Linked DNA regions of Homo sapiens. The protein of the gene in region 3 interacts with the protein of the main gene of each other region in a biochemical or structural test. Each region holds a gene or a part of one and is shown on either strand. Other genes may lie near its edges.

Region 1 (3,500 bases), on a different chromosome or scaffold from region 3:
AAATGGTTTTAGGTATTGGAGGGCCATGGGCCATAGTGTACTAAACATAGGGATATGTTTATTTATTGGTTTCAGTTTATGCTGTTTACATAAAGTATAAATAATTTATACATCAATGAGAGTCAAGGGAAATTGTGTTATGGGCATTTCCCTATTTGTATTTATTGAGAATTGTTGACTAGAATTGTTTAGTGATGTGTTATTAAGACATTTACTTTCCATCTGTTTCCCAGAGGGTGTCCTTGTCCTCTCCTAGTCACCACTTGTGCAAACAGCGAAAGTTTAGAAAGGTACTGGATTTCTAACTTAACCCCTAATTTCTTTCCATATAGGAAGAAGCACAAATATACTGACGAATATTTTAAGAGTGTATGTTCAGATTGAATCTATACTGGAGATATTTGGGGGTATTTGTATTAATAAATAGTTTCTTGATGTGGGAAAGGCCATATTGGGGGATATGTATTACAGTTTCAAGTTAATAGTATTAATATATTGACTAGCAAAACCTGAGATCAGGTGATTTCGTTGACTTTCTTCTTTAAAAATAAAAAAATAATGAAATCATAAAAGAAGCAGTTGTTTCTAAACCAGTAGTTGATAATCTCTAGATTCCTCATTAGCCTAATTGTCTGAGGATAAATTCTGCTTTCTTCTGAGGGTTGCTACCACTTTCCATCATTTTCTAGGGCGGACTAGAACTTTGCTACTTAAAAGAGTGAGCTGCTGACTGTCAGCATCTGCGTCACAGATGAGGTTGTTAGAAATGCAGACTCTTGCTTCCCCCAACCCCCAACCCAGAATTTGAATTTAACAAGATTCCTGGTGAATTGTATATATAAGTAGGTTTGAAAAGTGCTGGTACTGGAGCAAGACTGTCTGGTTTCAGATCCATGCTCTGTCACTAACTTGCTATGTTATTACCTTAGATACATTTTGGAATATTTCGGTTCTTCTCCTCAGTTGTAAAGTGGGGATTAAAATGATACCCCCCTTTATAATAGGGTTATTGTGAGGATTAAATGACTTAATGTGTTTAAGTTTTGTAGCAGTGTAAATCGAGTCAGTAAAGTGGCCACAGCAAGATAAAAATGGGAGAGACAGTGTAGCCTGTAGTGATGTGCTCTCACTGTTGCTGGCATTTTCTCTAGTGCATTGACATCTTATGTAATTTTATCTTAGTCAGTTCACCAGATAATTGAGTACAAGTACATAACAAGCAATTTGTTTTTTAATGTCAGTAAAAGCAGTTCCTAGGAACTTGCGTAAAAAAGAAAATTAGCCTAAAAACTTCAGGCATAGATGAACAAATATTGTATTCCTTTTAAAGGAACATGCATAAGATTAATGATATTTAATTCAATAGAGAATATTATGATTGTCCAGTAAAGTATAATAAACAATTTTTAGATGAGTAATGATTATATTTTCCCCTTTTAAAATAGAAGAATTTGTGATTTTACTGTGAATGGGATTATATCAGCAGTTGTAAAATTCACATTCTGGATTGCTGTTACCTGCATTACCTAACCCCATAGCATTCTTTCCATGTCTGTGAACTAAGGAGAAATTTTGAAAGCTTTTTTCTAATTGGCGTATGAAAGCAGGTAATAATTGAAATAACATGTGATCCCTATATTAGCTTTGTTGGTTGCTTATAGAGTACTTGGTTTTAAACTCTCTCACACATGTAGATAGACTGCTTTTTCTTCTTTACTTAATACATTTGATTGTTTTTGTTTTAGTGTTTGCTACAAGATTGTATCTCATTAGTTATCTAGTCCTTTTATTTTCAATTCTTCAAAAAAAAAGGTCCTGGAACCCGCTTTTTATAAAAATTAAATCTTAATTGGAAGCTCGACTGTAAAACAGATAAATACAGAACTACTCTGACAAAGTATTTTTCATCCCATTATGCCGTGGGTGGTCATCTACAGATAGTTTGTATTATTAGTTTTATTGTTAATAAATTCATTTTGGCATCAGCATAAACCTCAAAAATCATGAGGGTTTTTCTGGGGACTTGGGCGTTAGTGATAATTTTAAATGGTTTATGATCAAAGCAAATTGACGTTTTATTTTTCAACAAGCTAATAGTTTCTTCAACACAACTGTAATAAAGTACTTTTTTCATGCTGTATTATAATATTTGTCTGCTTTCTGCAAGAGCGAGTGTTCCTTGAATGGAGAGATTGTCTCATTCATTTTTGTATCTTTTCCTTACTTCACATGGTGCTTTGCATGTGAAGGTCTGTTAATAAATAAATTGAAGTCTCTCAAATTGACATAGAAATAGCAATTCCAGGCAAAACAATGACTTCAGAGAAAATTTATTAAATATCCTATACATTCTTTACCTTTTTCATAATTATGATACTTAATATTTAATAACCTATTCAAAGTTTACCTAGCTACTGTTTTTGCTTATAAGAGGAAATTGATACTCACAGTAGGCCTAGTTATTTCCTCCATACGTGCCAGTGTAGCAGAAATACTCAGTACTCTGTGTGACTGGAAACATTTTCCAAAAGAGTGACCAACTGAAAATAATATTCTTCCCACTAAACTTCACATTTTTATTAAGGATCTATTAAGTTCAATGCAGATAATGTAATTAGAAGGTGGGTAAAACAGCATGTGCTTTTAAAAAAAGTTATATGTTTACTTCGCAGCTACATGCTCACATAACCAGTCATATTCCTCTCATAACCAATTAGTACTTTATGCTCTCCTTAAATGAGTTGCTGTAACAACAGATGGATATGTTTACTTTTCAGGAAAATCAGCAAGTCTTGCATAGAGTGTAAGGACATTCAGATTGAGAATGAAGAACTTGTCCTTTCAGTCTCTTCTTCCCTATCAATATGAGATAAAAACATAATAAAATCACTTGTAAATCTAGAGAAATAGAAAGTGATTTTTTTTTCCACATACCAATTTTGACAGGTAAGTATATTTGGGCATTTTAATTGGAATCTGGAAGCTGAAACATCTTCAAACTTTTAACCTTTCTTTTGCCTTTTGATCAGTGGTTCTCAACTGAGGCAATTTTTGTCCTCCCCTTCCCCAGCCACCAGGCTAGGCGACAATTGGTAATGCCCAGAGATATTTTTTGCTTTTCATAACTGAAGGAGAAGGGGGCTACCACTGACATTAGTAGGTAGACGTCAGTGGTACTGCTGAATACCCTGTAATACATAGGACAGACCCCCACAATAAAGAATTATCTGGGCCAAAATGTCTAGTGCTGAAGTTGAGAGACCCTCCTATAGATATTTGTTCCTGTACTTTGCCTCTTGAATTTTTGAATAGTTTGCTTTTGACTGTTTTCCTGTCTTATTAGTGATGCATCCTTAATATATTCACCTACACCTTCCTCAGCTGATTCTTCACTTCCTGCTACTTCTATGCGTAGTTTACATATGTCTTATATTATTTGTCATACGTGTGTGTTATTTTTTATGTGAAACCACAGGAATGACTACCTTGAGTACTTGCTA
Region 2 (3,500 bases), on a different chromosome or scaffold from region 3:
GAAAATGAAGAAGAATCACAAAGAGTAGGCAGAGAGGCAAACGTTTCGAACAAACCCACATACTAAGTAGTCTACTAATTGTGATATAAGTGAATGTAGGAAACTGGCTTCTCCCTGGAATAATTATTACGAGATTTACACAATTCCAGGAAAACTTAAGCAAGTCTTGTTGAGCAGGCTTTCAAAGGCTTTGTTATCATGAGCTTCAGCAGATAGGTTAAAAAGTGGTGTTTCTATTATACCTTTCATATTGAGAACATATGACCATGAGTGCCTTACAAGGTTAGTCTCAGGATCTTCCCAAGTTGCCGGTGGTGTTGGGCCACAGACGTAGTTCCATATTCTCTACTATTTTTTTCCTACCAAACATTAGCTTTTGATGATTTTTCTCATTTTCCCTAGTGGATCCTCCTTACCTGACTGCTCTAATATACCCAAATTCCCAATACCAAAAATAGGGGAAATATAAATCGGGGAAAGAGTGAAATTAGAGAATTGGAGGGAAAAGAGTAGAATCTGGGATCTTTAGGAACCTAAGTTACTTTTTTTTTAATTGCTTTGCTTTTTGTTTTTTTGTTTTTTTGTTTTTTTTTTTTTGTCTTTTTTTTTAAAGAGGGTCTCACTCTGTCACCCAGGCTGGTATGTGGTGGCACGATCATAGCTCACTACAGACTCAAACTCCTGGACTCAAGCGATCCTGCTGCCTCAGCCTCTTAAAGTGCTAATATTACAAGCATGAGCCACCGTGCCCCAATTTTTTTAATTAAACGTTGACCCAATCAATATTCTGGATAGAGAGCTATCTCCCAGCACCCTGTTAAGTTAAGCACCCTGTTAACTAACAGCACCCTGTTAGTTAAGAGGGTGAACTCTGGCTCCAAGCCCTGCTCCACCCCTTTCTCCACGTTGGGCAAGAGACTCAGCCTCCTTATGCTCCAATTTCCTCCTGTGTCAGCTCCTTAGAAATCCATGTCATTAACATATTAGAGTTTTAGGACATGGTTAGTCATGGTGAGTGTTAGCTATTATTAACATCTATTAGTATTTTTGTAATAATGAGCTATGTAGGTTGGATGTTACCAAATTTTGAGGAAGAAGTGGACCATCTCTCCCCTCTTTTGACTGTCCAGCTCAGACTCTGGCGTCTCCTCAGATAAGGTAATCTGGCAGGAGAATGCCACCTGCCTGTGGTGCTAGCCTAGGGTAAGGAGTTGTCCAGACCGCCAAACGTCTTCCCAGGAGAGCTCATCAAGAGCCCATGAGTCCCCTGCCCACAGCCCACCTGCATTTTCTCCGTGAAATATCTACTTGAAGACAGGCATCTCACACCTGTAATCCCAGCACTTTGGGAGGCTGAGGCAGGAGGATAACTTGAGCCCAGGAGTTTGAGACTATCCTGGACAACATAGTGAGACCCCCAAAATTACAAAAAAAAATTTGAAAATTAGCCAGGTGTTGTTGCACACACCTGTGGTCCCAGCTACTCAGGAGGCTGAGGCAGGAGGAGGATTGCTTGATCCCAGGAGGTCAAGGCTACACTGAGCTGTGATCATGCCACTGCACTCTAGCCTGAGTGACAGAGCAACACCCTGTCTCAAAAGAAAAAAAAAAAAACCAATACGAGGGGAGCAAGGTGAGAAGTATGTGGTGGGTACAGGGAAAGAGAATAAGACTTGTCAAGAAATATGACAAGAGCTATCAGTAAAATACAGATAGGTGACTCTTGGGGCAGCTGGTGTGAAATGTAGTCTGTCAGCAGCAGGTGACTGGCTCAGCCGCAGCAATGGTGGTCCAGGTTAGAACAGCAGCTTCTCATCTCCTACCCTCCCACTCCTTGCCAGCTTTCTGAACACTTCTTCCCCCACAGTGCTGGTATTTACTGACTCCCAACTCTGCTTTCCTTGCAGCTGACCCTCTGGTGGGCAGCATCGCCACACAGTACATGACCAACAGAGCAGAGCATGACCGGATGGCCAGACAGTGGACCAAGCGGTACGCCACATAGGGGCCTGCTGCCTGCCGCCCCGCGGGACCTGTGCAAGCACATTCACCAAGTGCATCGGTAGCCCTGCCCACCCCTCCAGACCTCGGTTCTTATTTTCCTATTTTTATTAAATTTGGAACCATTTTGTGATGGTATGTTGTCCATCTTCCCATCCCAGTTCTTCCTGCCCCCCTTCCTCTCTCCCACGCTCTCTTTTATCTCTCATTTTATTCCCTTGTTGATTTCTGTTAACTTGAAAGATTTGGGATTTTTTCCCACCTCATCATAGATGGGAACTTTTGTTTTCAGTGCAAACAATGTTGGAGCTGTAATAGTAAGAGCTTTCTTACAAAGCTTTGTATTACTGTGTGGTTTTGTTTTTTTTGTTGTTGTTTATTTGATTTTGATTTTTTTTTCTTTTATGTGATCTTTGGGAAAACACATTCAGAATTATATCTCGTTTCTACTTAAATGTAGTGCTTAGGGTTAATTTTTTGTACTGAAGTCTTTATTGGTGGGTGCATGCTACTGGGAACAAGTTTTTGTACAAAAGCTTCAATCAGAATCACTGTGCATTACTGAGACTCTGTTTATCACTAGCCTTCTGTCCCTCCCGCAGAAGACTGTTGGATTGAACAAAATAATATGTATTTTGATTTACTTAAAGTGCTTGTAAATTTCTTAGGGACCTGCCACTTTTGACTGTGGATCAGTTGATGTACACTTGTATTATTAAAGCACTCAATAAATCACTGTGGCTGATAACTGCACTTCTGGTAACCCGACATTTGCTTTGTGTCCTGGTGACCGCTGTAGCCCTACGTGCAGTGAGGCTTGTCTAATTCAATTACAGGTTCAAGTGTATTTTTCATCTCAAACCTCTAATATTTCTTTGGAGTTGAGTTGCTTAGCATGTGGAATTTCTCCAGCTGTCAGTAGCCTGATGATTTTATGGTTGTTATAGTAAATTGCTATCATTTTACATATTGACTGGGCATTCTTTCTGTTACAGCCTTCTTTATCAACAATTAAAATATGTAACTCCAAAAATAGCCTTCTTGTGAAAGTGAAGTCTGAGCTAATCATTGTGTTCAGCCACTTTCAACTTTATTTCTCTCAAAATTGTTACAGTGATTGCCCTCAAGCTTTGTATTGTTCATTTTTGTTGTTGTTGTTGTTGTTGTTGCTGCTCTTTTTTCTCCATGATTTTAGCAAAAGAAGTAAACTCAACTGTATTGGTCACGGTCAGCCCATTCAATGACAAGGGTGTCTGTCTGGCTTCACCTTCAGGCTATTTTAGTGTGCAGCTATAGGAGGCAGAGGAAACGTGGGTGGTGTAGTTTCTAAAACACGCTGACTTGCTGATTGATAATTCAGGGTTATTAGTGTAACAAAGCGTAGTGGAAACTCCTACTCCTGCTGCACCATACAGTTACAGACCCTACCATACTCTTGGTCTCATTTAAGGAACCATTAACACCTTCACTGCTGAAAAGCAGGATTTATAAGCATAAGT
Region 3 (3,500 bases):
CAGAGCAGTCCAAATCTCAAAGCTCCAAAATGATCTCCTTTGACTCCATGTCTCACATCCAGGTCACGCTGATCCAAGAGGTGAGTTCCCATGGCCTTAGGCAGCTCCACCCCTGTGGCTTTGCAGAGTACAGCCTCCCTCCCGGCTGTTTTCACTGGGTGGTGTTGAGTGTCTGCAGCTTTTCCAGGTGTACAGGGCAAGCTGTCAGTGGATCTATCATTCTGGGGTGTGGAGGACAGTGGCCCTCTTCCCACAGCTCTACCAGGTGGTGCTCCAGTAGGGACTCTGCTTGGGGGCTCCAACCCCACATTTCCCTTCCACACTGCCCTAGCGGAGGTTCTCCATGAGTGTCCCGCCCCTGCAGCAAACTTCTGCCTGGGCATCCAGGTGTTTCCATGCATCCTCTGAAATCTAGTGGAGGTTCCCAAACCCTCATTGTTGACTTCTGCGCACTCGCAGGCTCAACACCATGTGGAAGCTGCCAAGGTTTGGGGCCTGCACCTTCTGAAACCACAGCCTGAGTTCTACTCTATGTTGGCCCCTTTTGGCCACAGCTGAGACGGCTGGAACGCAGGGCACCAGGCCCCTAGGCTGCACACAGCAGGGGAACCCTGGGCCCAGCCCAGGAAACCATATTTTCCTCCTGGGCATCTGGGCCTATGATGGGAGGGGCTGCCATGAAGGCCTGTGACATGCCCTGGAGACATTTCCCCCCACTGTCTTGGGGATTAACGTTTGGCTCCCTGTTACTTATGCAAATCTCTGCAGCTGGCTTTAATTTCCCCTCAGAAAATGGAATTTTATTTTCTAGCACATTGACAGGAGGCTGCAAATTTTCCAAACTTTTATGCTCTGCTTCCCTTATAAAACTGAATGCCTTTAACTGTACCCAAGTCATCTCTTGAATGCTTTGCTGCTTAGAAATTTATTCTGCCAGATACCCTAAATCATCTTTCTCAAGTTCAAAGTTCCACAAATCTCTAGGGCAGGGGCAAAATGCGGCTAGTCTCTTTGCTGAAACATAACAGGAGTGACCCTTGCTCCAGTTCCCAACAAGTTCCTCATCTCCATCTGAGACCATCTCAGCCTGGATTTCATTGTCCATATCCTTATCAACATTTTGGTCAAAGCCATTCAACAAGTCTCTAGCGAGTTCCAAACTTTCCCACATTTTCCTGTCTTCTTCTGAGCCCTCCAAACTGTTCCAATCCCTGCCTGCTACCCAGTTGCAAAGCTGTTTCCAAATTTTCAGGTATCTTTTCAGCAGCATCGCACTCTACTGGTACCAACTTACTGTACCAGTATGTTTTCACGATGCTAATAAAGACATACCTGAGACTGGGCAATTTACAAAAGCAAGAAGTTTACAAAAGCCAGTTCCAAATGGCCGGGGAGGCTTCACAATCATGGCGGAAGGCAAGGAGAAGCAAGTAAGTCATGCCTTACATAGATGGCAGCAGGCAAAGAGAGCTTGTGTAGGGAAACTCCCCCTTATAAAAGCATCAGATCTCTTTTGTTTTTTTAGATTAAGTCTACTCTGTTGTCCAAGCTGGAGTGCAGTGGCATGATCTCGGCTCACTGTAATCTCCACCTCCTGGGTTCAAGCAATTCTCCTGCCTCAGCCTCCCAAGTAGCTGGAACTACAGGCATGTACCACCATGTCCAGCTAATTTTTGTATTTTTAGTAGAGACAGGGTTTCACTATGTTGGCCACACTCATCTTGAACTCCTAACCTCGTGATCCGCCCGCCTTGGCCTCCCAAAGTGCTGGGATTACAGGCATCAGCCACCGCCCCCGACCTAAAGCATCAGATCTCTTGAGACTTATTCACCATCATGAGAACAGCATGGGAAAGACCTGCCCCCAAGATTCAATTGCCTCCCACTGGGTCCCTCCCACAACATGTAGGAATTCAATGTGAGATTTGGGTGGGGACACAGCCAAACCATATCAGCACCTGTATTCCCATTTACTTGGGACACTGAGGCAAGAGGATTAATTTAGCTTAAAGTTTGAGGCTGTAGGCAGGGCATGGTGGCTCATGCTTATAATCCCAGCACTTTGGGAGGCTGAGGCGGGCAGATCACCTGAAGTCAGGAGTTCAAGACCAGGCTGGCCAACATAGTGAAACCCTGTCTCTAATAAAAATACAAAAATGAGCTAGACGTGGTGCTGCCCACCTGTAATCCCAGCTACTCGGGAGGCTGAGACAGGTGAATCACTTGAACCCAGGAGGTGGAGGTTGAAGTGAGTTGAGAAAGAACAAGATTCTGTCTTTAAAAAAAAAAAAAAGTTTTAGGCTGTACTGTGCTATATAATTGCACCTGCAAATAGCCACTGCACTCCTGCCCGGGAAACATAGGAAGACAACCTTCTCTTAAATTAAAAAAAAAAAAAAAAGAAAGAAAGAAAAGGGCTGGACGTGGTGGCTCACACCTGTAATCCCAGCACTTTGGGAGGCCGAGGTGGGTGGATCACAAGGTCAGGAGTTCGAGACAGGCTGGCCAACATGGTGAAACCCCATCTCTAGTAAAGATACAAAAAATTAGCCAGCCGTGGTGGCACATGCCTGTAATCCCAGGTCCTTAGGAGGCTGAGGCAGGAGAATTGCTTGAACCCGGGAGGCAGAGGTTGCAGTGCTGAGATCGTGCCACTGTACTCCAGCCTGGGTGACAGAGCAAGACTCCGTCTCAAAAAACAAACAAAAAACAAAAAAACACAGATGATCATGATGGGAGAATAGGAGAGAACATTTCTACCTGAGGCATTTTCAACTTTTCAACTTGCAAGAGTAGGAGGCGAGAACCAACACTGGAAGACATCAAGAAGGTACTTACAAGGGAAGCAAATTTTAGTGCAGGTAACACAGAATGCTGCCATATTTAGGAGCAGAATTTAGCAGTAGTTTGGCTAAAGTAAGAGGTGAGGTGTGGCAGACAGGGAAATGCCTAGGCCCTAGGACAACTTCCCTTAGCTGGTGAGAGGAGAAAACTTAGGAAAAATAACTTTGAGGAATACAATACAGTTACTGAGAATCAATAAATTTTCTTGAGGATAATTATCAGACTCCTCTGCGGTGAAAGCAAAAATAAAGATACTATTTTGTTTTTACTATTTGAAGTTTCTAGAAACATTGGCCATGTGCTTTCCCACCACACAAAAAAAGCAGATGACATAACAAAGCCTAACAAAAGGAACAAAGGTAGGAGTCAGGGGTGGGGTGAAGTTTCGAGCTCTGCTTACTAATTGTGTGACCTTGGGCAAGTGACCCTGATCTCCCAGTGCCTCAGGAAGAGTAAAATGGGGCTAACTACAACAACTATCTTATAGAGTGGTTCTGTAAGAGAGTAAGAAGTAGGGAATCACTCAACCATAGATATTAAATCATGAGTCTGGAGTCTGAGACCAGCCTGGACAAAAGGGCAAGACCCAGTCTACAAAACTTTGTTAAAAATTAGCCAGGTGTGGGCCAGGCGAGGTGGCTCACGCCTGTAATCCC
Region 4 (2,882 bases), on a different chromosome or scaffold from region 3:
AACCATGAAATTCCAGATTTAAATCTGTTGCACTACAAAAATGTCTAAATGATGTCTGCTAAATTTGTGAGTTATAGAAGTACAGAAATAAGTCATTTTCATTTCAAATGCAGTGAATTTCTAATTTCATGGTATCATATTTTTTTCCTTTGCAGTTTTGGTAAGACTCCCCCATTACTTTGCTAAGACTTGCTTTCTCAACCAGTGGGATGAAACGAGTGCCAGTGTGTTGACTGAGCCTTCTTAGGACTTAAGGGGCTCTGGGAGAGGCCAAGGCAGCAGTTGAAAACTGCAGCTTCACCTGGCCTTTGGGCCTGTTTTCCCTGGCCCACACAGTGTGGCTGGTTAAAACATTCTGAATTTGATGCCAACATTTTTAAAAATTGGGAGATTTGCATGAAAATCCAGAATTCGGGTAACTTTTGAATGATCTGAAGATCTGGCAACAGTAGACCTGACCCACCTTTGTGCACGGGACTTAACTGAGAGGATCTGAGTAGCAGACACCCTAAGAGCATGTCATTGTCTTCTCACCAGTTACTCTCCAGTTGGCTAGAGTCCCCTCCGAGCACACCTGCTAGTCCTTCCCCCTTGTAAGCCTTTGACTTTGTAATCCCTGGGCTAAAGGAAACACATTATTCAACAAAAGTGTTTCATGTTTGCCCACTAGTTGTTGGGGATGATTAGGTGGTGAGTGAATGGCATGGGGCTTTCCTTTGGGGACCATATACTCTAATGGGGAAGGGGGACAGACAAATAGTTGTAACTCTGTCATGGAAAAGAGAAGTAACTTGGACAGACTTTTGGATTCAGGCCAGATGAACATCTCCAGGCAGAGGGAACAGCAGCATCTGCAAAGTCCTGGGAGAGAAGAAAAGAATCTGAACATTAAGTGGCTTCCTGAAAATCGACTGCCCAGGCCGGGCACAGTGGCTCATGCCTGTAATCCCAGCACTTTAGGAGGCCAAGGCAGGAGGATCACTTGAGTCCAGGAGTTTGTGACCAGCCTGGCTAACATAGTGGGACCCAGTCTTTATTTAAAAGAAAATTGCCCGTTAAGAGGCTTTTCTAAAATCTTGAGGTGTTGATAGGAGCTTTATGTTTTTTGACTTGATTGTTGTAGTCTACTTCGCTGCGATTTGCTTCTGCTCTAGTTATCCTTCATCCTCTCAAAGGCTGTCTAGCAAGATCTTAGGTCTAAAGTAAAGTCATCTCTTGGTATTTGTCGGGAACTGGTTCTAGGACTTCCTTTGGATATCCAAATTCGCAGATGCTCAAGTCTCTGGAATAAAATGATGTTGTATATGCATACAATCTACACAAATCCTCCCGCTTATGTTAATATTTAGATTACTTATAATACCTATTATAATGTAAGTGCTATGTAAATAGTTACACTATTGTTTAAGGAATAATGACAAAAATATACATGTTGACTACAGACACAATGTTTTTTGGAATATTTTGTCTGGTTGTTTGAATCCACGGAAGTGGAACCCATGGATATGGAGGGCCAACTATATAGAACCTTACTCTAGACCAAGAATGTACTTGTAAAACAATTTCAAAGAAGCACTTAAAAATAAGATTAAATACAAACCAACAGATAAAAGTCACAGGTGCTATGGTTGTTTGATGGAGAATGGGGAAGGAAATCTGTCCTAAAAGACATTATAAACACAGTGACCTAAGTGGAACTAAATTGGATCGAGGAAATGATAGGAATAGGCCTCATTTTTCTGTTGAATGGTTCAGGAACCTTTTTTTTTTTTTTTTTTTTTTTTTTTTTTGGCTGCTCTAGCCACTTTCTAGCTCTGTAGTTTAGGCTGGAGTGCTGTGGCATGATCTTGGCTCACTGCAGGTTCTGCCTCCCGCGTTCAAGCGATTCTCCTGCCTCAGCCTCCTGAGGAGCTGGGACTACAGACACCTGCCACCACACCTGGCTAATTTTTTGTATTTTTAGTAGAGACGGGGTTTCACCATGTTGGGCCAGGATGGTCTCCATCTCCTGACCTCGTGATCTGCCCGCCTCGGCCTCCCAAAGTGCTGGGATTACAGGCGTGAGCCACCGTGCCCAGCCCTGCCACATCTTTTTTGTTAGTTGCAGTAGCAATACAACCTTATCTAGAAAAGCTGGCCAAAAAAGAAAATACCATGATAATAGGGTACCTAATTTATTGCTTTATTTAAGAAAAATGTAATATTTCATTCGAATAAGTACTTTTGGGCTGGGATGATATTTCATTTAGCTACTTGGCATGCCACCCATCTTAGGGAATTATATGAGGGTTTATACTTTAAATAACATAAAAAGCAAAACATGCTGAATGTAATAATTTGAGAGAAGTGTAAATAATAAAAATCTGTCATCTACCACCTGGACTAGTAATATATTGTTTGTTTTCTTAACTATACACTCACCCCTGCACTCATCTCCATTTTATCGTGGAAGTCAGGTATATTCCAAGAGTTGGCTTTATGGTACTAACTTGCCATTAGCTGCCATGCTGGGAGCTGGACTAAAATTTTTCCTCTTGTGTGGAATCCAATATTAAGAGTTCGGGTCTCCCCGGCCCTCTCCCAGTTTCATCTTGTCACCCTTGAGCTGATCTCATTTCATGTGTCTTGTATGGCCCTGCTGGGTGGCACTGGTAAGTGTATGAACATAGACTTGATACCAACCTCTGTCTCTACTACTGAATTGATCACATGATTTTTCTTTCTCAGTTTTATTTTTAAAGACTCCTGATCCATCTTACCATATGACTGCTTTTGAAATAGTTCCATGATGTAGATTAGTAAATATCGATAGTTCTTAAGTTTTATTATAACCTAGTAAGTTTACAAAGTCTCCTGGCTTAAGGTCGGGAGTAGATATCAGA
Region 5 (3,500 bases), on a different chromosome or scaffold from region 3:
CCATACCAGCACATAGGCATATATACAAAGATCCTGCTACAGAAACTTTAAAGGAAGAAAATCATGGTGATCAGCCAGGGCCTTCTCCCTTTTCCACTGTTCAACTCAACTGATTTCCTCAACTCAAAAATGTGGGAACAAGCTTTTCTAGCCATAATACTCCCTCCACTGCAAATGATCTTCCTGTACAAATAGTATCATACACATCCTGATATGTCTGTATGACAAAGCCAGAGTCATCTGTCTCTTCAACTTGCATCTGACTCACGTGTGAGGCTGCAGGAGTCAGGCTGCCTTTCCTCTTTGCCATTCTTCACAGCCAGGAGTCATTTTTGTGGCAAAAATTGAAAAAGACAGATCTATAGGTAGATACTTAAGTCAACTATTTAAGAATTGTTGGGATTGAAGGATCTGAGGGCACCTGGAAGTTCACCTGATTCAATCTTAACTGTTCTGACATTCAGCCTTTGTTTGAACACATGCAGAGATAAGAACATTCGTTTATTCGTGCAACCCCTCCTGTAGGTACAGGCTTGGTGGCAGCAGGGCAAAGGAGGACACAGAGCTCTCTGCATTTTGATTCCAATGTCTCAATGTTTTTGGTGCTCAGAAAGAACTTTATCCTCTTCCTTTTTTTTTTTTTTTTTTTTTGTCTCTTCCTATTTCTGCCCAAGGAATGAGTCCAGGAGTAGAATCCTGCTCCTTCTCTTCTGATAAAAACTGCAATTGTTTTCTCTTCTTTCTGAGTACCCAGCATGGGTTGGACCAGCACCTTCTTTAGTCTTCTTGCAGGAAAGGGACTTCCCGCTCTGGCTCTGGAACCCAGAGATGTTTGGCCTGTGATCCAGACCCAGTCTTGGCTTTTCTGAGAAAAAGTAGACTCTGGTTTACTCTTCTGGATTCTCCATTCCGGTCATGTAGCTTATGGCTGTTGCCCAAGTTCTCTTTACTAGCCCTTGGAAAATAAATCCTGATGTACAATAGTTGTTGGCTTTGCCACATCAGCTGCTTCCTTACTGGGCCAACTTTCCCACTGTCCCTGCTGCTCTCAGTTTTTCTCTCCTCCTGAGCTGGGCTTCAAGGGCTGTAGCCCTGGGTCTCCTGTCCAGTTTCTGCCCTACTCCACCATCTGGTCTGGGCTTTCTGAGTTTTATCATGAGCACCCTTCTCCACTCAGCAGTTTTCAACCTCTGGTCTCTGACCCCAGTTCTCAGACTGGGAACTTCCATATTGAAAACTTGACAAAATGCCTGCTAACAGCTTGTTACAGCAGGTTTTGAGTTATCCGGGGGAGCTGTCAGGAAGCCAGGTTAGGATGAAGCAAGACAAGAAACGACATTATTTCTAGGGCTGGGGAAGCCCCAGTCAAGACAGTCAGCCACAGCCTGATAACTCTCCCTGCATGCGCAAGCCCACCGCTTGCAACCTGGAGGAAGCTCCTGTCAGCAATGGGCTCTAATGACATGTCAGAAAACAGAACAGACAGCTTAAGAGACCTTCACTACTACTTCCCTGCTTTCACAGCAGGTGTCCTGGTGGTACAAACCCCAGGTATGAAGCTGCAAGGAGGGACCCAGTTCCAGGACACCAAGAACACCCAGCTACTCAGCAATCTCCTTCCACCGTGGACCTCGGCACATGAACACAGCACAGGCACCCAACGATTCCGCCAAGGCCTGCAGGAGTGTTGTGCCTGGTCCAACCCAGAGTGTCAACAAGCATGTCTTTCCCAACATTGTTACAAAGTGCAAGGATAGAGTCTCCCAAGTGTGCGGCTCCTTTCACCTACCTTGTCTCCTGGGATCCTCATAACAGCCCTGTGAGGTGGGAAAGGGGGCTATTCTTAACCCCATTTGAGAGATGAAGAAACTCAAGCTTAGAGAGGGAATGGGAGAACTCGAGGCCACCTAGTGAGAGGCTGGGACTAAACCCTGGGTCTCTTGACTCCTGGTTCAGTGCTGCACCCACTAAGCAGGCTTTCGGAAGCATTGGGACAAGCAAGAATGCCCCAGGAGATAAGGACATCCCAGTGCTCCCCACTGGCCAAAGCAAAGCACACCATGCAGAAGCATCCTCACGTTCACAGATAGCTGCTCCAACCTCCTTTAGCACAGACACAGTGCAAGCCTCCACTGATGCTGTGCTTGCAAAACACAAACATCTAGCACTTCCAACAGCCAACTAGACCCGGCAGAACCTTGGGGACAGGCTTGACTTCACCCAACACAACACCACTGCCACAGAGTTAGACACTACTTAGGCCCACCTTGTCCTCAAGCATGCTGCCCTGCTCAGAGCACCTTCCACTTTCCTCTCTCAAGGCCACAATCTACCTGAGTTTGGGCTCTCTTCTGACTACTTGTGCTACAAAGTGTCTGCTCCTTGTTTATCTCCAGACTCAACCTCCTTCCCTGGCTGCTGAATTTCATATGCCAGTGAATCAACCAGCAAAAGCTCTCAAGCCGGACCAACCTCTTTTTCTCTCACTTTGGGACCTACTAACTCCCCCACCAACCTCAGTGGTTCAGTGGTGTCTGCAAAATGCATCCATCCTGCCATCTGAGTAGCAGGTGAGAGTTATGGGCCCAAGCTTGGGAAGAACCTCTCTCCTTCTGTTTTGACCTGCTGGTCTCCTGGGACTTCCCATTCTAAGCACCCCAAGCTTCTTGGGAAGGAAGAGGTAGCAAATAGCTAGTTGGGTGATGAAGGTGTTTATCATTCAGTGGGAAGTAGGGGGTGGCTGTGCAAAGAGTGGAGTCTGAGGCAGGGTGATTGAGACACCCCTAGGCCTCCCATACACGCTCAGGCCCATCCTCTGGAAGTGAGGAAACAGTGGGCAGATTACCTCGGTTACAGATACTGCAGAAGTTGCTGGGCCCCTCGCTGTGCTTCTTCAGGTGGTCTGCCATGTATGCTGCCCGCAAGTACTTCCCACACACCTGGCAGGGCACCTTGTCTTCATGACAGGCCAGGTGGGAGCGCAGACGGTCTCGGGTGGCAAAAGAAGCATTGCAGGTCTGAAGGCAGAAAAGAAAATGGGATGATGTGAAACCCAGCACCCCACACCTGACTCCCCACCAAGTGCACCATGAAGCAAAGGCAATTTCTGGCCATCACATGACCTCCCTTTATAAAGACAGCTTTAGAGTTTGGCTCAGGCTCCCTACCCAGAATGCCAAGAGGCTGCTCTTATTTCCCATGGTACCTCCTTACGGGACACTTGAGTGGGAATCACTGGTACTAACTAAATGACTACTGGAAATGTACCCAGGACATGGCAAGCTAAGCTCTATACCCCTCTACACAATGAAGAGTTACACATTTGCTCATCCTTAGACATTAAGAATTGACTTTAGGTGCATTAGCTATAATGCACAGAATTACATTTACATGAATTTACAGATGAGTTATTGGCATATAAACCAGCCTTCCTGTTCTGTATCCCTGGGTTTCCCCTAGTTTTATACAAAGAATTATATTTGTTCATTTTATTCAAAAGT
Region 6 (3,500 bases), on a different chromosome or scaffold from region 3:
GCTGTGTCTGGATTAGGTGTGATTGGACGAGACAGATACGGAGTTTTTCCACTCAGGGGCAAAATTCTTAATGTACGGGAAGCTTCTCATAAACAGGTATGTATGTGTGTGTATATATATGTGTATACACACATGCACACATACATATGACATTTCTAATACTTTACTAAACTTCTCGAATTTTTAAATGTAATTTCTGACTCGTATATTTCAACACTTCAAACTACTCTCAGTGCTTTTCCTTTTTGAACAGATCATGGAAAATGCTGAAATAAATAATATTATTAAAATAGTTGGTCTACAATATAAGAAAAGTTACGATGATGCAGAATCTCTGAAAACCTTACGCTATGGAAAGATTATGATTATGACCGATCAGGTTGGTTTTAAAGTTACCACATATTTCAAATTCATGTCTTCTTCAGATTCTCCCTTTAATATTTGTTTTATGAGACTTGCCCGAAGATGGTATAACTGAAAGTGATTATACATCAGGAGGAAAAAATGAAAAAACCACGTCATTTAGTGGAAACATTTTTATGAAGCACATTTTACATTGTCTGATTTTTGGGGTAACTAAGGAGAATATAATACAGTGTGGTACTATAGCAGCCTACCTACAAGTAGGAACAAAATTATGGAATTAACAAGTAAGAAAGATTAATGATAAGGGTTAATATTTATACATGATGGCATGATTTGGAATGCACAAATACCAGGACTTAAATAGTAAAATGATGGTAATCGAGAAAGAACTAGAAAATTGAAAAGGAAGAATTTCAGATGCATTCAACTGTTTTCTCTTATGCACTCTAAAGTATTTGTAGAGAAAATCTGCAACTGAAAAAACTGCTATTAATATATAGTTTTAAGCAGAAATTTTCCAATTTTTTATCTAGGGAAGACTTGTGAATATCTGTATTACCTGGGTTTCCCTACCATTGCCCATTAAGGTGGCATTATAACCATGTTTTATTTTATGTATTTTCTATCCTTAAATCATTCTTTTAGTGAAATCTGGGGAAACTATAAAACAGATAAAATGATAATATATTTTTATAATGACAGATTCAGTCTATTACTACTATATTCTTTATTTGTGTATTAAAAAATTTAGTATGATCATCTTAATAGCTTTTGTAAAATGCATTTCTAAAATTCAGAATTTTGGTTTTTTGCATTCACGTTTTAAAATTTGTTTATATAAGTAATCATTTTATAAAAGTATTACAACATTTTTTACTTTACTAACATTTATTTAGGATCAAGATGGTTCTCACATAAAAGGCCTGCTTATTAATTTCATCCATCACAATTGGCCATCACTTTTGAAGCATGGTTTTCTTGAAGAGTTCATTACTCCTATTGTAAAGGTACTCTTTGCATTAATATATTTTTATATTGTTGTCTTAAAGGGTAGCAGAAAAACTAATTTTGTTTTTTAATTAATTTAAGGCAAGCAAAAATAAGCAGGAACTTTCCTTCTACAGTATTCCTGAATTTGACGAATGGAAAAAACATATAGAAAACCAGAAAGCCTGGAAAATAAAGTACTATAAAGGTTTGTATTTTAAAATACTTAGATTTTAAATACTGATATAAATGTATTCTTATGAAAGCAATCTAAAAGATGACTTGAAAGTTTGACTATTTTAGACTTCGAAAATAGCTATCACTGATTTTAAAGTATTGTTATAGAAAAATGTATGCAAGTAGAATAGTGTAATAGATTTCATTGAATGGGATCACCATTTCAATGGCTAGTCTTGTTTCCTGTAAACCTCCTTTATTGCCACTCCATTAGTTTGAAAAAACTTCCAGACATTATAGTCTAGTATTTCACCTATAACTACTTCAGTATGTATTTCTGAAAGAATTTTTTTAAGTAACCCATAATACCATTATCATAACCTTCTTTAATATCCTATTGTTGAGACAGGGTCTTGCTTTGTCACCCAGGCTGGAGTGCAGTAGCATGAACACAGCTCACTGCCGCCTTGACTTTCCGGGCTCAAATGATCCTCTTGCCTCAGCCCCCGCAAGTAGCTGGGACTACAGGTGTGTGCCACCACACCCAGCTAATTTTTGTATTTTTGTAGAGATGGGGTTTTGGTTTGTTGCCCAGGCTGGTCTTGGACTCCTGAGTTCAAGCCATCCACCCACCTTGGCCTCCCAAAGTATTGGGATTACAGGTGTGAGCCACCATGCCTGGCTCCCTTTTTTTTTTTTTTTTTTTAAATAATGTTAAATACCCAGCCAGTGTTAAAATTCCCCTGGACTGTATTAAAATTGTTTATTTTTAGAGTTTTTTATTTTTATTTTTATTTCGTTTTTTTTTAATTGTTTTTATTTTTTTGAGATAGAGTCTTGCTCTGTTGCCCAGGCTGGAGTGCAGTGGTGGGATCTCGGCTCTCTTCCTCATGTGTTCAAGTGATTCTCATGCTTCAGCCACCCAAGTAGCTGAGATTACAGGCATGTGCCACTATGCCTGGCTATTTGTAGTATGGGTGGGGTTTTGCTGTGTTGGCCAGGGTGGTCTAGAAGTCCCGGCCTTAAGTGATCCGCCCACCTCAGCCTCCCAAAGTGCTGGGATTACAGGCATGAGCCACCATGCTTGGCCTGAGTTTGTTTGTTTTTTTCCAAAGTCAGGATCCAAGTAAGGTCCACACATTGCATTTGGTTGATAAGTTTATTAATATAGCATTTCTCTTTTTATATTTTTTCCTTGTAATTTATTTGTTAAAGAAGTTGGGTTGTTTGTTCTGTGTAATATTCCACATTCTGGATTTTGTTAATTATATTCCTCTAGTTACATTTAATATATAGTATTTTCCTTTGCCCTTATTTTCTGTTAACTGATGGTTAAATCAGAGGCGTGATCAGATTTGGGTTACATTTGTTTGGCAAAAACATTTCATAGGTAGCGTTGTGTGCTTTCATCAGGAAGCATCTAATGTCTACTTTGTCTTTAGTTGCTTATTAAGATTGATCACTTAGTATAGGTGTTGCCAGCTTGATCCATCTATTACAACTTTTCCACCAGCTTTTTACTTGATGGTTTTAAACAGACATTGATATTCATGACTCACTTTTATTTTTAAAATTGTGCAGGATTGGGTACTAGTACAGCTAAAGAAGCAAAGGAATATTTTGCTGATATGGAAAGGCATCGCATCTTGTTTAGATATGCTGGTCCTGAAGATGATGCTGCCATTACCTTGGTAATTAAGTTAATTTTTTAAAAGCTTTTGTTAGCCATCCCCCTACCTTCTATTCCTTTCCTCCCAGTCCTGGTTCCCTATGATAAGTCTCTTTTGAATGCTCAAGCTAGTTAATTTTAATTTTTCCCCCAGATGATGCTGTGCTTGTATAAACTTCTTTAATTGAAAGACCTTAGTTTAAATGTGTTTTTGATTAAAATATTGTAAAATAACCTAATTTTCCAGAAATTAAGAATTAGTTATTGGCCACTTATACATTTTAATTTTGTAATAAAATTT
Region 7 (3,500 bases), on a different chromosome or scaffold from region 3:
AGTTCTCCTCATAATCAAGATTGTGTGTGTGTGGGGGGTTCTGATTAGAGGGAGGATGAAGAGAGGTGTATGGGGTTTTTTTTGTTTTGTTTTCTGTTTGTTTGTTTGTTTTTGAGATGGAGTCTCACTCTGTCACCCAGGCTGGAGTGCAGTGGCACGATTTCGGTTCACTGCAACCTCTGCCTCCTGGGTTCAAGTGATTCTCCTGCCTCAGCCTCCTGAGTAACTGGGATTACAGGCATGCACCACCATGCCCAGCTAATTTTTGTATTTTTAATAGAGATGGGGTTTTCGCCATGTTGGCCAGGCTGGTCTCGAACTCCTGACCTCAGGTGATCCACCTGCCTCGGCCTCCCAAAGTGCTGGGATTATAGGCATGAGCCACCACACCTGGCAGGTTTCTTTGAAAAAGTTTGTGTTTCGGCAAACACCATAAACCCCCTGGGGGACAGCCTTGGGGAGTCACCTGGCACCCTAGCCCAGCCTCCCTCCCTTGGGTCCTGCAGTGAAGGCTTAGTGAGGGTGTGCAAATGCCCAGGTCACCCTGGGACTGGGCAGGCCCTCTGGGCTAAGGGTAAACTCATTTGGAATACCTGTTTTCTATCATTGTTTTTTATTTGTTAAATTTAAAGGGTACAAGTGCAGTTTTGTTGCGTGGATATATTGTATAGTAGTGAAGTCTGAGCTTTCAGTGTAACCATCACCTGAATAGTGGACATTGTACCCGTTAAGTAATGTCTCATCCCTCACCCCCTCCCACCCTTCCCAGTCTCTCCAGTGTCTGCCATTCCTCACTCTGTCCATGTGCACATGCTATTCAGCTCCTGCTTCTAAGTGAGAACGTACGGTATTTGACTTTCTGTGTCTGAGCTGTGTCACTGAAGACAATGGACTCCAGCTCCATCCACGTTTTTTATCATTTTTACCTGCACTCCACACCCAGCACAATCCAGGCTTCTTTGTGGGTTTTTTGAAATTTGTCTTTAATTATAAAAGTAGCAGCCAGCAAATTAACAAACACCCATGTGCCTTTCATTGCACAGAATTGAAAATCATCATACTATATTTGCTTCAAGTAATTTCCATTAGAAAGAACTAGAATATTACAGTAGAGTTAAAGACCCTTTATTTCCCATCTTCAGTGCTCTTAAAAGTTCATTTAGGGCCAGGCATGGTGGCTCACACCTATAATCCCAGCACTTTGAGAGGCCCAGGTGGGTGGATCACCTGAGGTCAGGAGTTCAAGACCAGCCTGGCCAACATGGCGAAACCCCATCTCTACTAAAAATACAAAAATTAGCTGGGCGTGGTGGTGCGCATCTGTAATCTCAGCTACTCGGGAGGCTGAGGCAGGAGAATCGCTTGAACTCAGGAGGGAGGCAGAGCCTGTATGCAGTAAGCCGAGATTGCGCCACCACACCCCAGCATGGGTGACAGAGCAAGACTCCGTCTCAAAAAAAAAAAAAAAAAAGTTCATTCATTGTACACTTAGAAATAGTTAAAAAGGTAAACTTTGTTTTGTGTGTGTGTGTATATATATATATATATATATATATATATATATATATATATATGTATTTTTTTTTGAGACATATATGTGTCTGGTTTGTTCGCCCAGGCAGGAGTGCAGTGGCATGATCAACGGCTCACTGCAGCCTCAACTTCCTAGGCTCAAGTGATCCTCCTGCCTCAGCCTCCCGAGTAGCTAGGATTACAGGCACACACCACCATGCCCAGCTAATTTTTTTTTTTTTTTTTTTTTTTTGTAGAGACAGGGTTTTGCTATGTTGCCCAGGCTGGTCTCAAACTCCTGAGCTCAAGCGATCCACCTGCCTCACCTCCCAAAGTGCTGGGATTACAAGTGTAAGCCACCACACCTGACCTGTTTTGTATATTTTACCACAATAAAAAGCCTTTAAAACCCCAAGCAGACAGTTCATTTTCATTCAGGCCCAACTCAGAATCTGATCACAGCGGGGTTTCCCCCCTTTCTAGCGAGTAGCTGAAGAACTGTTTTCTCTCCTTGATGGTATAACTGTCTCTGTGGGTGTTGCTCCCCTGCCGCTCCAGTGGTTTTGTTTTTGTTTTTGTTTTTTTGAGACGGAGTCTTGCGATCTCAGCTCACTGCGACCTCTGCCTCCTGGGTTCAGGCGATTCTTCTCCCTCAGCCTTCCATGTAGCTGGGACTTACAGGCACCTGCCACCACGCCCGGCTCATTTTTGTATTTTTAGTAGAGACGGAGTTTCACCATGTTGGCCAGGTTGGGCTCGAACTCCAGACCTCAGGTGATCCACCTGCCTCAGCCTCCCACAGTGCTGGGATTACAGGTGAGAGCCACTGCACCCAGCCGGCCCCTCAGTCTTTTCCTTCTCAATCAGTGGCACCACCATCTTCCCAGGCTTTGGACATGGTCCCTGACTCACCCTTGCCCCTCACCCCCACACTAATCCACCTGCGAGCTCTGTTGCTTCACCACCTAGACCAGCCCCAAATCCTCAACTGCCCCCACCCTGGGCCACACCTGGACCACTGCTAGAGGCCTCTCATGGGCCCTCCCTGTTTTTCTCTTGCACTCCCCGGGCTTTCTGGCACAAGATGCCCCAGAAGCAGAATCACATATCTCTCCTGGGAGCCAATCTAGTGTGTTTACTGCCCCTGGAGTGTTATTGTTGGCCTTAGAATATGTCCCACTACAGGTTTGCAGAGCACTGTAGTCAAAAGTCATTTGAAATAAATCTTTTCTCTGTGGTATATTGTCAATTTGATATAGAATTAAATTTGTTTCTTTTCTTTTTTCTTTTCTTTTTTTTTTTTTTTAAGAGACAGGGTCTTGGCCAGGCGTGGTGTCTCATGCCTGTAATCCCGGCACTTTGGGAAGCCAAGGTGGGTGGATCGCCTGAGGTCAGGAATTCAAGACCAACCTGGCCAGCATGGTGAAACCCCGTCTCTGCTAAAAATACAAAAATTAGCCGGGCGTGATGGCAGGTACCTGTAATCCCAGCTACTCGGGAAGCTGAGGCAGGAGAAGGCTTGAACTCAGGAGTCGGAGGTTGCAGTGAGCCAAGATCACGCCATGGCACTCTAGCAAGACTCTGTCTCAAAAAAAAAAAAAGAGAGAGAGAGAGACAGGGTCTTGCTCTGTCACTCAGGCTGGAGTGCAGTGATGTAGTCATGGCTCACTGCAGCCTCATACTCCTGACCTCAGGTGATCGACCCGCCTCGGCCTCCCAAAGTGCTGGGATCGTAGGCTGAAGCCACCATGCCTGGCCCGAACTCATTTGTTTTTATTTGCATTAAGTGTAATAAGGTTTTGTTACTTTTAGTTTGAATTTTATTTTGGGTAATATAAACATTTACATGATTCAGAAGTCAGAATTACACTGAGGCATGTTCAGCTAGGCCTCACTCCTGTGCCTGTACCCTTACCTTTTTCCCCCTACCCCATGCAGGGAATCAATTTCATTAGTTCCTGGTGTGTCCTTCCTTAATACCCCCCCTT

Evidence for each region.
Region 1: the proteins of RNF4 (region 3) and UBE2E3 form a complex in vitro, tested with the Homo sapiens proteins (one study listed by BioGRID).
Region 2: the proteins of RNF4 (region 3) and UBE2E2 form a complex in vitro, tested with the Homo sapiens proteins (one study listed by BioGRID).
Region 4: the proteins of RNF4 (region 3) and UBE2N form a complex in vitro, tested with the Homo sapiens proteins (2 studies listed by BioGRID, with this or other methods).
Region 5: the proteins of RNF4 (region 3) and PATZ1 form a complex in vitro, tested with the Homo sapiens proteins (one study listed by BioGRID).
Region 6: of the proteins of RNF4 (region 3) and TOP2B, one has a biochemical effect on the other in vitro, tested with the Homo sapiens proteins (one study listed by BioGRID).
Region 7: of the proteins of RNF4 (region 3) and MECP2, one has a biochemical effect on the other in vitro, tested with the Homo sapiens proteins (one study listed by BioGRID).

The regions. Positions count from the first base shown.
Region 1 is NC_000002.12:180,987,105-180,990,604, forward strand, and holds part of UBE2E3 (ubiquitin-conjugating enzyme E2 E3), read left to right. Parts: intron 1-233; coding exon of another isoform or gene 234-290; intron 291-3,500. UniProt on the Homo sapiens protein: Accepts ubiquitin from the E1 complex and catalyzes its covalent attachment to other proteins. In vitro catalyzes 'Lys-11'- and 'Lys-48'-, as well as 'Lys-63'-linked polyubiquitination.
Region 2 is NC_000003.12:23,587,827-23,591,326, forward strand, and holds part of UBE2E2 (ubiquitin-conjugating enzyme E2 E2), read left to right. Parts: intron 1-1,907; coding exon 1,908-2,005; 3' UTR 2,006-3,500.
Region 3 is NC_000004.12:2,475,606-2,479,105, reverse strand, and holds part of RNF4 (E3 ubiquitin-protein ligase RNF4), read right to left. Parts: intron 1-3,500. UniProt on the Homo sapiens protein: E3 ubiquitin-protein ligase which binds polysumoylated chains covalently attached to proteins and mediates 'Lys-6'-, 'Lys-11'-, 'Lys-48'- and 'Lys-63'-linked polyubiquitination of those substrates and their subsequent targeting to the proteasome for degradation.
Region 4 is NC_000012.12:93,405,184-93,408,065, reverse strand, and holds the end of UBE2N (ubiquitin-conjugating enzyme E2 N), read left to right. Parts: 3' UTR 1-2,382; downstream 2,383-2,882. UniProt on the Homo sapiens protein: The UBE2V1-UBE2N and UBE2V2-UBE2N heterodimers catalyze the synthesis of non-canonical 'Lys-63'-linked polyubiquitin chains. This type of polyubiquitination does not lead to protein degradation by the proteasome.
Region 5 is NC_000022.11:31,332,847-31,336,346, forward strand, and holds part of PATZ1 (POZ-, AT hook-, and zinc finger-containing protein 1 isoform long C), read right to left. Parts: intron 3,018-3,500; coding exon 2,846-3,017; intron 2,571-2,845; exon of another isoform or gene 2,503-2,570; intron 1-2,502. UniProt on the Homo sapiens protein: Transcriptional regulator that plays a role in many biological processes such as embryogenesis, senescence, T-cell development or neurogenesis. Interacts with the TP53 protein to control genes that are important in proliferation and in the DNA-damage response.
Region 6 is NC_000003.12:25,626,908-25,630,407, reverse strand, and holds part of TOP2B (DNA topoisomerase 2-beta), read left to right. Parts: coding exon 1-96; intron 97-253; coding exon 254-379; intron 380-1,262; coding exon 1,263-1,373; intron 1,374-1,455; coding exon 1,456-1,561; intron 1,562-3,111; coding exon 3,112-3,221; intron 3,222-3,500. UniProt on the Homo sapiens protein: Key decatenating enzyme that alters DNA topology by binding to two double-stranded DNA molecules, generating a double-stranded break in one of the strands, passing the intact strand through the broken strand, and religating the broken strand.
Region 7 is NC_000023.11:154,035,218-154,038,717, reverse strand, and holds part of MECP2 (methyl-CpG-binding protein 2), read left to right. Parts: intron 1-1,856; exon of another isoform or gene 1,857-3,500. UniProt on the Homo sapiens protein: Chromosomal protein that binds to methylated DNA. It can bind specifically to a single methyl-CpG pair. It is not influenced by sequences flanking the methyl-CpGs.